Linked DNA regions of Homo sapiens: region 2 is linked to region 1. A link means that fine-mapping ties the variant in region 1 to the expression of a gene that starts in the linked region. Tissue or cell type: whole blood. Region 1 holds a variant in brackets; the other region holds the start of a gene. All regions are shown on one strand. Distances are from middle to middle.

The links. PIP is the estimated chance that this variant, and not a neighbour inherited with it, causes the effect.
Region 2: PPARA starts here. The variant in region 1 is fine-mapped to the expression of PPARA in whole blood (TOPMed, PIP above 0.99).

The regions. Positions count from the first base shown.
Region 1 is chr22:46,116,481-46,124,653 of GRCh38, forward strand. No RefSeq gene overlaps it. Among named protein-coding and RNA genes, the nearest start is that of MIRLET7B, 6.9 kb to the left of the region's middle. The variant G/A (reference allele first, on the strand shown) is at 3,089.
Region 2 is chr22:46,146,862-46,155,034 of GRCh38, forward strand. It overlaps PPARA (peroxisome proliferator activated receptor alpha), which reads left to right and starts at 3,665. Exons shown (of 9, transcript NM_005036.6): 1 at 3,665-3,791; 2 at 5,027-5,109. RefSeq lists silencers at 3,126-3,735, 3,886-4,005 and an enhancer at 4,216-4,405.

The DNA of each region.
Region 1 (8,173 bases):
TGCCTCCTTCAATGCCTGCGATCCCTCACCCTGCCCTGCTTCCCCCACCATCCGCCCCGCCTGGGCAGCCTGGGCCACTGCCCGCCAGCCACCCCCGCCTTCGGACTGTGCATTTCCCGACAGCGACACCGTGTGGCAGCAGCCCCCACCTCCGAGGCCAGCCCCGCCTGCACCCCCCCCCCACCTCCGAGGCCAAAGCTGTGAATAGGGTGACCCCTTCTGGGCTGTGGAAGCCTCGGGTTTGAGGACAATCCTGGGGAGGGACCCCAGGGCGCTTCCCGCTCTCCTGGCGTGTGTGTGTTTGCGGGGGAGGTGTGGGGGCCTCTGTACCCATCACAGCCACGTGCCGGGACCGCCGGCCATCGTCCCGAGCCAGCGACATGCCTGGCAGCCTCCCGCCCACCTACGCCCCGCTCACCACCAAGGAGCTGTCAGCATCACTGCCCCCAACGGCATCTGGCAAAACTGTTGGGGGTGAGCCAGAGGGAGCACCCCCGTCCCCAACAGCGCTGAGTTGAGAGCCACATCTGTCTCCAGGCACTGCCACCAGCAGGAAGGGAGGCCACCCTGAGCCTGGGAAGACTCCGGAGCTGGGTTATCTGAAGGCCGGGAGTTCAGGTGGCCCCAGGCAGAAGAGGTGGCACAGTGAAGGTCCACACATGGGAGGCGGGCGGAGTGGCTGAGCCTGAAAGTTGGCATCTGGGCCCACCAAGGACAGGCCTGCCATGTTTGAGCCCTGAGCTGAGCCTCCCCAGAGCCTGGGGGGAGGCTGGAGCCCCAGTGAAGGGCCTCAGATGCCAAGGAGGGAGGTCAGGCCCTAGGGCTAAGCCCCTGGCACAGACTCATACCCACACAGTGGCATTTAGTGAAATGGGCTCCTCTGACGTTGCCTCCTGAAACAGGCAGGGTCGGAGGGGTCAGGTCTGATGAGGCCTGGGGGCATCCCTGTGCCAGCTGGGTGAACATGGCTGGTCACTGTCCCATTCTGAGTTCAGCCTCTTTCTAGAACAAGAAGGGAGGTGGCACCAGCCAGGTCGCACATCTCAGATATCGGACAACTGGGGAGCTGAGGTGGACCAGGAAGGGGAAGGCTTTCAGGTCTGGCTTGCTCAAGGGACTCAGCTCCTACCCCGGCCCCAGCTGTTGCTGAGCCTGAGGGCAGGTGGTGCTGCCAGGTGCCTTGTGTTGGCCTCCCTGCATGCGTCCTGCCTGGTGGCCCAAGTTCAGCATCCACACTTATGCCAGCCAGTGCCCTATACCACCCTCACCCTTCCAAGGCTCCCACAGCCTTCAGGGCTGCCCAGTGTGAGAGCTGCTGTGAGTCTATATGGGTAGCTTGGTTTCTCTGATTGGGAGCAGCTTCCCCAGGGCTGGGAGCAGGACCCAGACAGTTGCTGTAAATGCTGGTGTGTCGGCCCCTCTGGTGCTGCATTGGTGACATCCAGGGCCTGATCTGCTTCCTGACAGTCCCCAGAGGGCCGCCATCCTCAGCCCATTTCATGAATGTGGAGACAGAGGCTCAGAGAGGTAGAGTGACTTTCCCAAGGCCACACAGCAGGCCGGGTACAGCTGGAATGGGCGGCCAGCTCTGTCCACCCCATGATCTGTGGCTGTCTTGCCTTCCAGGCTGCCTGGGGTTGGGAGAGTAATGGTGGCATAGGGGACAACAGGTTGTGTTCTGGGGTCCCTTCCCTGGGGCCAAGGAACTGGGCCAGGCCCAGGGCCCTGCCAGGTACCTCGCTTCCAGCCTTGTCCCTGAAGGTCCTCATGCAGGAGAAAAGCAGCCACCTGCACACCGCTGTCCGGCCTCCCCAGAAGGAATGCGCTCCCCCCTCAGACTTGACCTGGGTTCAAACATGGCGGGCCTGTCCTTGGTGGGCCCGGATGCCAACTTTCACCCCTCTCAAATCCTGGGCATCCAGGCTTTGTCTCCAGCCAAGCCCCAGGCAGGCAGCACTGCCTGGACAGGCAAGCAAGACATACTGGCCCTCCTGCAGTCCCCGGAAATAAAACAGAGAAGAGCAGCCCTTCCTCAAGAAGGCCTCACCCCGTCCCTCCCCTCTTCTCTCCCCTCTTCTACCCCTCTCCCCTTCCCTCTACATCACAGACCCAACAGCCTCTCTCGCCAAGCCCATCCACCCTCCTTCCTCCCGCTCAGCCTCCAGGGCTTCTGCCCATTTCCTGGGTCAGCCCCACACAAGTCCTGGCCCCGAGTAAAGATACCATATCCAGGCAGGCGCTGTGGCTCCCACCTGTAATCCCAGCACTCTGGGAGGCTGAGGCAGGCACAGCGCTTGAGCCCAGGAGTTCAAGACCAGCCTGGACAACATGGCAAAATCCCATCTCTACAAAAAAATACAAAAATTAACTGAGTTTGGTGGCTCACGCCTGTGGTCCCAGCTACTCGAGAGGCTGAAGTGGGAGGATCACCTGAGCCTTGGGAGGTCAAGACTGCAGTGAGCCCAGATCGTGCCACTGCACTCCAGCCTGGGTGACAAGAGTGAGACCCTGTCTCAACAAATAAATAAATAAGTAATACAGTTGTCATATCCTATGGAGCAGCTGGCCTGGGGGGTCTGGGTGTGGTGGGGAAGGATTTGAAGGCAGATGCTGGGGGACAGCAAGGGAAGAGAAGGGGGAAACCCAGGGAGGCAGCAGGGGAGGGGTGGCCTCCAGAGGAAGGAAGAAAGGGGGAGGGGAGGCAGCAGGGGAGGGCAGGGGAAGAGTTGTGGCTGGTGCTAGGCCTGGGGTGAGTGTGGGAGGGGTTCACCTGGGCAGACTCACGGGAGGTGCATTCCAGGGTCAAGGAAGGAGTTAACAGAGCCTGTCAGAGCATTCGGGGTGCCGGGTGGGGAGGGATGGCTGGTCCCCGAGTGAAGAAGGCCAAGCTGTGTCCACAGAGGTCATGGTGAGCCCAGGAGTCCAGGAAGGGCCCAGCCAGGTTGTCCACCGCCCCTGCCAGGCCAGAGGAGTTGAGGCTTTGGGTAGCACCCCGCAGGCCCAGCAGTAGAGCTCATATGGCCTGGGGTCACCTCCGGGGGGAGGCACCCTCCAGTGCCCAGCCAGGGGCAGGCTGAGTGCGGGCACC[G/A]GAGAGGCCAGCTAACAGCAGGAAGCCCAGCCCTCGAGTGATTGCCCCCTGCAGCCCTAATACATGACAGAGGGGCCTCGGGGTGGCAGAAGGAACACAGGCTGCAGAAACCACCCAGCAGAAAGGTGGCAGCCAGCCGTGAACCAATCCCATGGCCCAGGGCGAGGCCCTTACCCTCTCTGTGTCCTTATCCAGGCTGAAGACAAGGAGACCTGGCTCTCATGGGTACCACGAGGTCCAGGGGGCAGCAGGCAAGTGCCCTGCAAATGCCAGCCAGGGCAGGCCAAGCAGACCAACGTCCTGAGATGAGACAAGACCCAGCCTGCTCAGCACCCCGCAGTCTGGCCTCCTCCCCTAGACACACAGGGCTGCGCCTGACCCCAGGCCATCAGCAGGCGGAGGCAGGGGGCAGTGGGTGGCAGTGAGGGAGGAGACCAGCCGCTCCCCTCACCCACTTTGATCTTCTCCATCAGCTGCCAATGCCCTCAGCCCACGGAGGAGTGAGTTCCTGTGGCAACGCAGGCGGCCCAGTGTCCTTTGCCACGAGGGAGAATGCACGCTGTGGGATCTGGGGATCCGGGGGTGTCTGTGATGGGGTGTTTGGGGCTGTGCTGCGGGATGGGGAGGAGTCTGAGGAGGCGGGGCTCTGGGTTGGATGCTCTCAGGACGCAGGATCGTCCTCCGATCAGCGATCTTCACAAGCCCTGTCTCCAGGGCAGGGAGCCCAGAGCGAGGCTGGAGCTGCGATTGCTGACGTGGCTGCAGTCCCCCTGCTGCCTGGGCCAGGAGAGGCTGGACATTCTGTGGCTTGGATGGTGTTCATGCTGTGGTCTGTGCTCAGACGTGATTATGAAGGGGGTTTTGATTTGTCCTGACCCTCACAGTCCCAGAGCTGATGCAGATGCCCGCAGGTGGACACCCAGGGCCGGTCATGTGTCAGGTCTCGCCTGCCAAGGCCGCTTCCCCTTCCTCCGCCCTCCCTGGTACATTCTGTGTCTGCCTGTGTGAGCCCTGCCCCATGTGCCCCGTTCACTAGGCTGTGAGCTCCAGCAAGCGTGTCTTCTCAGCACCTAGTCCAGCACCCAGCACACAATAGATGGTCAATCAGTGCCCACTGAGGCCAGGCACAGTGGCTCACACCTGTAATCCCAGCACTTTGGGAGGTCAAGGCGGGCGGATCACCTGAGGTCAGGAGTTCAAGACCAGCCTGGCCAACATAGTGAAACCCCGTCTCTACTAAAAATACAAAAATTAACCGGGCTTGGTGGCGGGCGCCTATAATCCCAGCTACTCAGGAGGCTGAGGCAAGAGAATCACATGAGCCCGGGATGTGGAGGTTGCAGTGAGGTGAGATCATGCCACTGCACTCCATCCAGCCTGGCAACAGAGAGAGATGCCATCTCAAAAAAAAAATGCCCACTGAATGAACAAACAGGTTAGAGTGAGGACTCAGTCAAGTTGAATAGGGTGGAGCCTAGCACCATGGGGAAAGTGGCAGAGGGGGCTGCAGGGCAGGCCAGCAGTGGGGGGAAGCCCCCAGGGGACCCTGGGGACCCAGGCTGAGGAGGTAGCTGGCTGGCTGTCTCTCTCAAGGGCCTGGGAAATGCTCTTGGATGGCACGTTTCCTGGACAGATGATCCACAGTTGCTGCTCACGATGCCCTCTTGGAGTCACGCTGTGGTGAGCCTATTGAAGGCTCTGACAAGGCCTGCAGGGAGGAAACAGGTCCGTGTGACTTGGTTTACCCACAGTTTCCCAGGCTAGCCTGACTGTACCAGCTCTGGCTTTTTACGTCAGACCAGTGGCTGTCCCACAGTGCAGGAGCCAACACAGGGGTGCAGCCCGGCCTGGCAACCCTGCATTGGCCACCATGAAGGGAGAGGTGTTTGTGGGGGTATAGAGCTCTGAGAGGGTGGCTGCCAGGGCTCAGGCCAAAGGATGTGCTCAGATGACAGTAATGACCAGGGAGTGTTGGAGGTGTCAGGTTTGAGAAGCTATTGAAGGGTGACATTGCTGGGACCTGGGGACCAGCTGGGGCAGAGGCAGGGGTGGCAGGGAGGCCCAGGTCTCTCTAGGTGGGTGGGTGGATGGCCACTGGGACAGAGGAGCCAGGCTGGGGAGAGGTCTGAGCAGGCGAGGTTTAGGACCTGTCATTTGTGAGGTGCCCCAGGGACTGACCTTGAGGGCTGGAGGCCAGGCCTTTGCTGCCAGGGGAGCCACCTAGACCCACCCTGCGACACCAGACTCAGTAGCTGCCAGTACCCCCACCCTCCCTGCCCACCCTGCCCTAGGGGCTTCCAAAGAGAGGCCTGGCTTTCTTACTGTCTCGCCTGGGGCCCTCAGAGTCAGAGAGCACACCTCACAATCTACCCCCATGGGACTCAGCGGGCTCAGGAGCAGCAGAGGGAACAGCAGCCAGGCCTGGGACAGGACTTAGAGCTGGGCAGTGCTCTGAGCTGCTCCATGAGGCTGGCTCAGGGCTGGGAGCTCCGAGGACAGGCGCTGACACGTGGTCGTTGGTGCTGCCGCTCTAGGCAAAGCTCTGGGCCATTGTGGGGTCCCCCTTTCCCCAGCGAGCTGGGCCTTGGGCCTGGGCAGGGCCTGGCTCCTAGGTGTGAACCCCAGACCTGGTCTCATTTCCTTGCTATCAAGAGTGAGGCCACTGTCTCCTACAAAGATGCTGCCGAACATGGGCCCTGGGACCCATGCTGGGGAAGCAGGCGGGACTTGCCAGTGCTCATGGCTCCCAGGCCTTGGCGTGGCCAGGGCAGGTGCACCGAACCTCAGGCGCTGGGCTCAGTCCTCCGTCCTTGCATGGCCAGGCCCCCACATCTCCTAAGTCACTTAAGCCCAGCTGCAGGCGCTGGACAGGCGTCAGGAGCCCTGACCTCTGCCCCTACTCCAGGCCCTGCCTATCTGAGGGACCTGGGGAGCTCCTACCCCTCCCTGGCCTCAGTTTCCCCAAGCTTACAGGAGGACATTGAGGGTCTGGGGATGCTTTCCACACGGTTCTGGTAGCGGCGGCTTCTGGCTTGACCACCAGGTGGCGCCTGGTGCCCAATGAAGCACGTGGGGCTGGGAAGGGGCGGCCGCGTGGACACCGCCCCGCTGAAGAATCAGTGTCCGGGAGGCCTGGCCGTCCCCACACCGGCCCGAGGCTGAGCGGCCCTCGGGTCAAGAGCACAGAGGTGGTGGGGTGGGTGCGCAGTGTTTCCAGCACCGGCCTGGCCACCATCGCAGGGGGGCATCTCCGGCTCGGACAGCCATATCCCCCCCGGGCGGGCACAGAGCTGGGTACGGCTGGGGGCTGTGGGTGGAGGGGTGTGTAGGAGGCCAGCCCCTCACCCCTCCAGTGGGGTTGCAGGAGTTCTGCCAGGCTGGGGTCTCACCCCACCTCCCTCTGTTCTCGCTTCCACTTAGCCCTGGGCTCTGCTATCCTCTGCCTCTCCCAGCCTCAGTTTCCCCATATGTAAAACAGGTAATAATCCCACCCCTTCTGTGGGTGGGTGAGGCTGGCCACAGGCCAGGCCAGGAGGCCCAGCACATCCCCCTCCTGTCAGCACCGCCCTCTGCTCCCACTGCCCCAACGGTGGTGCCAGCCCCTGCACACAGGGTATCCCCACCAGGGCCGCCTGCAGAGCGGAGGGTGCTGCCCCATGCCCGGCTGCAGAAGGTCGTGTGGCCCGAGGTCACACCTAGCAGATGAAATGGCAAGAGACAGGAACAAAGAGGAAGCCCCGTGGTCTGGCACTTGCCGGGTGGCAGGAGGCATCTCTAGGTGACTCACATGATCCCATCTCATCCCAGGAGAGACCGAGGTCCAATCTCCCATCCTTGTGCTCTAGATGAGGACACGAGACCCAGAGACATGAGTCCAGGTCACACCGTGGTGTCCCCCAGAGACAGGGGCCTTCCCTGCTCCCCCCTTCCCTTGGGCCAGCCATAGGAGTGCGAGGCAGTAAACACTGTTGCCTGTTGCGCCCAGCATGGTGACGGCTGGGTGACCCTGGGCAAGTCTCCAACCTCGGGGAGACATCCTCAAGAGAGTCTCGGGGAGATCAGGGGCAGACAGCAGCAGGGAGGGCCGGGGTGTGGGAACGGCTGTGGGAGGGTGGGCAGGAGGCCCTGGCAGCTGGTGGGAGCTGGGTTCCCAAGGGCAGGGGAACCACCAGCTCTCCCAGCTGGACCGACCCATGCCTCAGTGAGGGGCAGGTGGCCCAAGGGTGAGATTGCCCCATCAGCAGTGGGCAGGGTGGCTGCTGGCTGGCACAGCGGGAGCCTGATGGCAGGCAGGGGAGTGGGCTGGGAGTTGCGGCCGGGCCTAGTGGGCTCTGCTGCTCTGTTCTGACCCTGATGTCCTGGGCCGAATCCCAGCCAGGGCAGCCTTGTCTGGAGGTGATGGGCGGGGCCGTCTCACTGGGCCTGGGGGAGGTGGTCCTGAAGTGGTCAAGGTCAAGGCCAAGGCCACTGCTGTCCTGCCCAGCGCAGGGCCCAGTCCCGGACAGGGTCTACTGGCCAGAGACACCAAACTGCTGGAGCCAGAGGGACTGGATGGCAGGAGCCCTCCCCAACCTGGCTCACAGCCTCAGCTTGATCTCCCCTAGCGCTGAGGGGCTCCCTCTCAGGGACAACCCTCTCCCTGCAGCCTTCCCCTGCCACCCTGGAGGACAGGGCATCTGGCCGCTGCTCCCGGGAGGTCCTCGCCTCAGACAACCTCCTGCTGGCCCCGTCCTTGGCTCGCCACTGCCCTGGGCCTTCCATCCTGTCACCCCATCCCACCTGCCAGCTTCTGCTCACACCAACACCAGGCCTGGTGTTATGCAGGGCTGCCTCACAGACTGTGACATCTGACCTCCCCAACTTAATGATGAGGAAACTGAGGTGAAGGGAGGCAGAGAAACCTTCCCAAGGTCCCACAGCCTAGAAGATGCCCGTCAGGAGCGCCCGAGGCCCCGACACACTTGCACAAACAGGCACACCCAGCCTCACCTCCACCAGCCCCAGAGGCTTCCTGGCCACTGGCTGTCCTCTGTGCCCCTGTACTTGTACCCAGACATCCCCAAGTCCTGGCATCATGGGCACTTG
Region 2 (8,173 bases), 30 kb after region 1:
AGCAGTTTCTGGACCTGCGGAAGCTTCCAGATCCTGCAAAGCTAGAATGGGTGCACAGCTTAAGCCCCTCCCCACCACCTCAGCTGTGACCACTGGTTAACATGTAGCATGCAGCACTTGGTGCTAATCAGATGGAGTCATGCCTCTGCTGACAACCCTCCATGGCAGGTGTCCCACAGCCCTTAGGACCAAAGTTAAACTCCTCACTGGGCTGCAAGACCTGCCTGGCCAGGGCCTTGCCCAGCTCTGCCCGCTTTGTGCCATCTCCACACTCTCTCCCCTTGAATGTCTCCTGCCACAGGCTTCTGCACATGCTGCTGCCACCCCCCTGGAGCTGTGGGGCCAGGAGCAGCCACCAGGGAAATCTGATCCTTGACCCTGGGCTCCTGAGTCTGCCAGAGGCTGCCGTATCAGCCAACAGACAGCTTCTGCAACAGACAACCGAACCCCGGGGGTACCCAGGGCCAGGTGCTGATGGACTGGGACTCGGGAGAGTTCTCACTCCCTGCCGGGGACCTTGGCCACATGCTGCCATTCCTGGCCCTTCGTTCCTCATCTGTAAGATGAGCATAAGCACAGCTGCCTTGTGGGACTCTTGTAGATTCTGTCCCCTAGTATGACAATACTTTGTTACCTTGGACCCATGGGGTTTTGCTGTCAGTACCAGGATGGCAACTAAGGACATGCCCATGGTTGGCCCTCACCGACGAGGTCCAGCCTTGGGTCGCCAAGCAGCCGCCTGCTCGCTGCCAGTGAGCCCTCCCTTTCTCAGCCCACGGCCCCTGCCCCGGTGGACTTCCACCACCTGACCTGCAGGCACGCTTCCAGGAGCTCAGAGGCCACTGCCCTGGCGGATGACACCCTGGAAGCACACACTCCCCCTTGACAGAGAGCTTTGCACATCAGCAGAGGGCAAGCCAGCAGCAAACTTCGCAGGCCCTGGCTGGCAAACAGACTCCAGCCTGGACCCCAGGCCCATAGGAGAAGCTTCACCCTGGCAGGGTCAGGGAAAGCACTGGGGTCCCTGAACACAGATGACCGTCATCACCTGCTCCCAGCACTCAGGGTCTAACTGCTGCCCTGTACTGAGCGGCCAAGCCCTATCACTCCAGGTTGCCTCCTCCAGCAACCCCTTCCCGTCTGAATTCCCAGCTTCCCAATTCTTTCCCTGAGGCTGTGGGAGAGCCTCGGCTTCTCTGGCTGGCTGGCAGGTCAGCACTTGCAGGAGAGAGCAGCTCAGCAGGGCAGACGTGGGCTTTACAGACCTGCCTTCCGTCCTGCGCCCTGCCGCTGGCCTGGGGGACCCAGTGCAGATGGGGCTTCTCTGTGCCTCAGTCTCCATCTTGCAATGTGGGCACAGTAATAATTACCCTCAGAACATCTTCCGGATCAGAAAATGTAAAAAGGGACCTGAGACAGCATTGTCACCACATAAATGGTAGCTATGAACTAAGATCCATATGCACCAGATGCTCCCAGTAGTCACTAAGGCGCCAGAGAGGAAACTCAGGTGGTGCTCAGAGACATTTTCAGGAGCACTGATTTGTCCTCAAAGTTACAGATTTCTACTCAGTCCCTGCGCCAGCGGTGTTTCTGTTCTGTCGTGTGGCCCTCATTTCATCAGCACTGAAGAAGGTAAAGAGAGACTTCCTGGAGCTGGGAATGGGGGTGAGGGTGTGCCCTTTGTGACAGTTGCTCCCATGCTGGGTGTGTGACAAGGTCTTCGTGGCCAACAGAAAATTGCTTCATCTCTCTCATCTGAGCGTGGTTTCCCAGAAGAAACCTACCACCCCCGGGAAGCATGGATATGGGGCTGTTTCTGGCCAGGATACTCCCAAGAGAAGAGTCCTGAACTTGCTTCTACCCTCAGGACGCCTGCGGGAGACTGGCTGACAGCATTTGATTGAAAATGCTTATTTCTGGGACACATGGATGAAAAACAAGTTTTCTCTCCCTAAAACCTTGGGAGCCCCAAAAAACCCAAGAATATCACTTTCCTATGTCTGCTGAGTGTACGTGACCACTCTGCACACCCCCACATAGCCTTTGTCCTTGTTCATGAGAATGTTCACTAGGTCTTTCAACACCTGGTTGACCTGGGTGGTGCATCTGGGTCACACACCTGTGTGGACCCTGGTCCTTGAGAGTCTGGGATATGGGTATGCCAGGTAATGTCTTTGAGCCCGGAGGTCCTCATGAGGATGTAGCCCCTGAGCTCTGCGTGGGCAGCCCAGGGTCAGCTTCCCTCACCAAACACAACAGGATGACAAGCTTGGATGTGGCTGCCTGCACACCCCACGAGATATGCAGGATATTACGTGTACAGGTCACCCTATAAACTCTGAAACAACATAAATGATAGCTATTGCTGGCTAACATGTGCAAGAGAAGGTGAGGTTGCCGTGTGCCAGTGGGAAGGATATGTGGGTGTCTGGAGGGTGGGGCAAAGTTCACCATAGGTGCCTGGCTAATCAACAAGGGTGAGTTTAAGAGAAGTTTGTGAAAGGGCCAGTTCCCGCCTGATCTCCAGTTCCCCTGCCTAATGAGATCTGGGTTTGCTTTCCGGAGTGGGTCCTCCTGGGCGCCCGCTGCCACAAATAGCACAGTGGCAGGCACAGCTGGCAGCGGAGGGCAGGCAGTGGAGCGGGCATAGCACACATTGCGTTCCCGAGGAGGGGAGCCCTGATGTGCCGGCACCCAGGGGCTTTGTGCATTCCGCTCCGGCAGCTCGAGCGTCACGGCCCGAACAAAGCGGCTTTGCAGGGCGCTCTCCTACTCCTCGCCATTGGCCACCGGGCCGCGACCTCTCCTTGCTCTGGCAGAGTCCCAGCGCCTTGCGTAGGCACAAAGTCAGCCCCTCACCCCCCAGCGCATGAAGTAGGGGCGGGCATGGCTCTTGGGCCGCTGGAGAGGGGTGGGGTTGTGGGGTCGGAGCTGGCGGCGCCTCCCCGAGCCCGTCCGCGTTGCCCTTCACCCTCCTCGTTCCCCCGCCCACCACACCGCCCTGGCACCTCCCGCCACCTGTTTCCTTGTCCTCCCAGCTCGCCTTCCCCTTCTCCTTATTTTGCATCCTGGGGTTCCAGGGACAAGGTCCCTCCCGGGCCGCCTCCCACCCTACGCACTTCTGAGCCTCAAGGGCACCCGGTCCCGGGTCCCGGGTCTAGACCGGCTCATCGCACAGAGTAGCAGAGCCGGGCTCATCGAGGAGGCAGGAGGGGCTCGCCAGCGTGGCACGGGCGCCCGGCGGGAACCTCCACCCGCCCCGCGGCCGCGCGTCCCCGCCTCGAATTCAGCCCCGCCCCGGTGCGCCGGGCTGGAGGGGCGCTGACGCTCAGCGGTGTCCCATCGGTGACCTTGGACGGTCCCTCCACCTCTCCGGCCTCAGTTTCCCTTGGCTGCAGCGGCCGCGGGGCGCTAGGTGGGAGCCGCTGAGCGCTCCCGGGGCCCCGCCCACCGCGAGCAGCCAATCGGGCGCCGCCCTCCGGGGGGTGTGTCCCGGGGCCGAGGCCCGGGGCCCGGAGGGCGCGCGGGGCGGGCGGGGCTTCCGGGTCGGGCCTCGGGACACTGGCTCGCGCGGACCGGGGCAGGGGGCGGGCCGAGGGGCGGTGCGTGTCGCGGGGGCGCGGCTGGCACGGACGCGCGGAGGCGGCGCCGGGCATGGGCCGTGGACGCGGCGGCCCCGCGGCGGGGGCAGCGGGCGGCGGGGGCGGAGGCGGCCGCTAGCGCCCTGCCCGGCGCCGCCTCCTTCGGCGTTCGCCCCACGGACCGGCAGGCGGCGGACCGCGGCCCAGGTGCCCGGGGGCGGGCGGGCGGGCGGGCGGGAACGCGCGCGGGGGTCCGCGGTCCGGGCTTCCCAGGTCCCGGGACCCGGAGGGCGGCGGACGGGGGAGGGGCAGGGGCTGGGCGGCGCATGCGCGGGGCCCGGGGTCTCGGGGTCTCCGGGTCCCGGGGACCCGGGGGCCCGGGGTGCGCGGCTGGGGACCTGAGGGCGAGGAGCGAGGACACACACCGAGGACTCTTGCGAGGGATCTCGGGGCCCAGCTCGGCCTCCCTCCTAGCGCTGGGGGCCTGCCCGGAACCCGAGTCCGCGGCTGTCCCTGGGGTTTGGCGCTGCGCGGAGGTCGGGTCTGGGGACCGCAGCGACTCTGGGTCTTCGGGTTGTCCCCTCGGAGGGAGGGCCCACGGGCGGGGACATCGGGACTTGCCCTTTCCTCGGCGCAGCGGAGCTGGGGCGTCGCCGACTCAGAAGGTGCTTTCCGAGACCTCCAGGGATCTCCGAGGCGAGGAAACCCGGGCCCCGGACAGACCGACCCTGGGTGGGTGCGCCCGGCTTCTGCCGTCGGACGGAGACGCGCGTGTTTGTTCCTCCAGCTGCGACCACCTTTGAGGAACGGTTCCCACTTTGTGCCCCAACGCGGCGGGGCGACCCCGGACAGGCTGCGCTGGGCCGGGTGGCTTCTCTGCGGAAGCCGCGCCACGTCGCTCCCGGTCGGGGCCGCTGAGGGTCGGGCGCCCAGGTCTTTCCGGAGTCCCGGGCTGCGCGGCCCGCGTGGTGCGGGTGAAGCTGGAGGGGCGCGGGGTGGTGCCAGTGGAAGTCAGGAGGGTCGGCCCTGCCCCCTCACGCACCCCAACCGGGCACAACTGCACGCCTGTGCTTTTCTGAAGTCTTTTTTAAAAGTTAAAAGAGAGGAAGTGTGCTCCAAGTGTCAGGATTCTTTCCAAGAAAAACCCACAGTTGTCCAATGGCCTGGGCTTCGTGGGACCTCCGGGGCTGCACGCCCACGTCAGCCTCAGCCGACCCCTGCCAGGAAACCAGGGAGGCCCCTCCTCTCCCAGCCTCCTTGGGATAAGGGTGCCTTGGGGAACTGGGTCAGGGCAAGGACACGGGATTTTCCTGGGAAGGACCCTGCGACACCCGTGTCGTTGCGGGGCAGGGTCAGCATGACTTTCCTCTTCCAAGGTGAAGAGTTGGGGGGCATCCAGAGAACAACCGTAATCACTTCCTCCTTCACCTTCTTACTGCCAGGCTGAAGCTCAGGGCCCTGTCTGCTCTGTGGACTCAACAGTTTGTGGCAAGACAAGCTCAGAACTGAGAAGCTGTCACCACAGGTAAATAGAAGGTTTAATTTACTGTTTCCAGATGGAAATATTTAAGTGTTTTCAGTGTTTACTTCTGTTGCACTACAGACCAGCAATCTGGGGGTTATTACTTTGTGATGCAAGGTTAGATACGTTTTCAGACTGAAAGTAAAATACATGTGCATGGATTCATTTTTTTTTTTTTTTTTTTTTTTTGAGACGGAGTCTCGCTCTGCCGCCCAGGCTGGAGTGCAGTGGCCTAATCTCAGATCACAGCAACCTCTGCCACTGGGGTTCAAGCGATTCTCTTGCCTCAGCCTCCCGAGTAGCTGGGATTACAGGCGCCTGCCACCATGCCCAGCTAATTTTTGTAGTTTTAGTAGAGGCGGGGTTTCACCATCTTGGCCAGGCTGATCTTGAACTCCTGACCTCATGATCCACCTGTTCCTCCCAAAGTGCTGGGATTACAGACGTGAGCCACCGTGCCTGGCCTAGGATTCACTTTGAAGTTCTGAGTTATTGTGTGACTTTTGCTAGGAACTTCATTGCTTCGTGGCAGGCATGTTTTGTATAATTTAAAACTTGATGACATTAACTTTGAGAAACGTGAGTGCTTACTAGACCCTTGGGATGTCCACACTGACTGGTACCGAGTAGTGTACTGTCTCTGAGCTGTTTTCATTTTGATTTGAATATTAAGCAGATGGCTTCTTGAGATAGACCCGTGCCAGAACATGCCAGGGATAGGCTGAAGAAACGGGCCAGATGATACAAATTTGTGTGGTCACCATCCATGAGAGACCAGGGACACTGGGGCTGATGATGACCTCTGCAACTCTGAAGCAAAAGTAAACTAATTGGCAAGTTGGGTGCGGTGGCTCACTCCTGTAATCCCAGCACTTTGGAAGCTGGGGTGGGCAGATCGCTTGAGGCCAGGAGTTCGAGACCAGCCTGGCCAACATGGTGAAACCTTGTCTCTACAAAAAAATAGAAATATTGCCTGGGCATGGTGGCGGACATCTGTAATCCCAGCTACTCAAGAAACTGAGGCAGGAGAATCGCTTGAGCCTGGGAGGTGAAGGTTTTAGTGAACTGAGATTGTGCCACTGCACTGCAGCCTGGGCGCCAGGGCGAGACTCCGTCTCAAAAATAAATAAATAAAATAAAATTAATTAACTAATTGACATTAGAAAAAAATGTTTTTTCTTTCTTTTCCCACATCCTTTTTTTTTTTTTTTTTTTTTTTGTGACAGAGTTTTGCTCTTGTCACCCAGGCTGGAGTGCAGTGGCATGATCTTGGCTCACCGCAACGTCCACCTCACGGATTCGAACAATACTCCTGCCTCAGCCTCCCGAGTAGCTGGGATTACAGGCACTCACCACCACACCCGGCTAATTTTTGTATTTTTAGTAGAGGTGGGTTTCACCATGTTGGCTGGGCTGGTCTCAAACTCCTGACCTCAGGTGAACCGCCTGCCTTGGCCTCCCAAAGGGCTGAGGTTACAGGTGCGAGCCACCGCGCCGGGCCCTTTTCCGACATCTTAAACGTAAAGTAGGAGACGTGTCATAATCATCGAATACTGCAGTGGTTTTCATTAGCTCCTGTTTGTCAAACTTATGAACAGAGTTTTAAAAATTGTGTATCAGCCGGGTGCGGTGGCTCACACCTGTAATCTTTGGGAGGCTGAGGTGGGCAGATGACAAGATCAGGAGTTTGAGACCAGCCTGGCCAATATGGTGAAACCCTGTCTCTACTAAAAATACAAAAATTAGCTGGGCATGGTGGCGGGTGCCTATGGTCCCAGCTACTCAGGAGGCTGAAGCAGGAGAATCTCTTGAACCCGGGAGGTGGAGGTTGCAGTGAGCTGAGATGGCACCACAGCACCCCAGCCTGGGTGACAGAGCAAGACTCCGTTTCCAAAAAAAAAAAATTGTATATGAGAGAGACAGAACTAGACAGAGAAGAAGGAGAAAATGTGTCTTCTTTATACACTATTTTGTAACTTGCTTTATCGAGTAGGTTATGAAAAATCTTCCTATGTGAAAAACATTTCTGCATCATTTGAAATGTCTATATAATATCCCATTGTGTTTAGATACAATAATATTTAGCCAATCTCTTTATGTGTATATATTTAATACAGTCATTCTATAAATATTGACTGAGTAGCTGCTGTGGGCTACTGTCCGCAGTGCTGAACAAGACAAGCATGAATCCATGAAACTGATTTTCATACCAGAATATAAAAAAGAAACTTAAAGATAATCCTCATCATGGTAAAAGATGAAGAACCTATTTTTGCCGGGACATCTTACTCTTTAGTAATTGGTGGCCAGTGTTCTTTTTCTTGCATGCTGTTTTGGAGAGTCTGTTTTTTAAATAAATATTTAAGTAGCCTGGGCGCAGTGGCTCACGCCTATGGTTTCAGCACTTTGTGAGGCCGAAGGGGATGGATTGCTTGAGCCCAGGGCTTCAAGACCAGCCTGGGCAACCTGGCGAAACCCTGCATCTACTAAAAATACAAAAATTAGCCAGGTATAGTGGCGTGTGCCTGTGGCCCCATCTACTTGGGAGGCTGAGGTGGGAGGATCCCTTGAGCCTGAGAAGTGGAGGTTGCAGTGACTGAGATGGCACCACTACACTCCAGCCTGGGTGACAGAGTGAGACCTGGTCTCAAAAAATAAATAAATATTTATGTAATCATCTTTAAGCAGTGTTTTTAATTTTATTTATTTATTTATTTATTTTTGAGACAGGGTCTCACTGTGTCACCTAGGCTAGAGCACAGCTGCATGATCACGGCCTATTGCAGCCTCGACCTCCCTGGGCTCAGGTGATCCTCCCACCTCAGCCTCCCAAGCAGCTAGGACCACAGGCACACGCCACCAGGCCTGACTCATTTTTGTATTTTTTGCAGAGACGGGGTCTTGCTATGTTGTTCAGACCTGTCTCAAACTCCTGGGCTCAAGCCATCCTCCTGCCTCGGCCTCCCATAGTGCTGGGACTAAGCCATGAACCACTGCACCCGGCATAAGTGGTCTTTCTTTAAAAAAAAAAAAAAAAAAAAAAAAAAAAAAAAAAAAAAACCACATT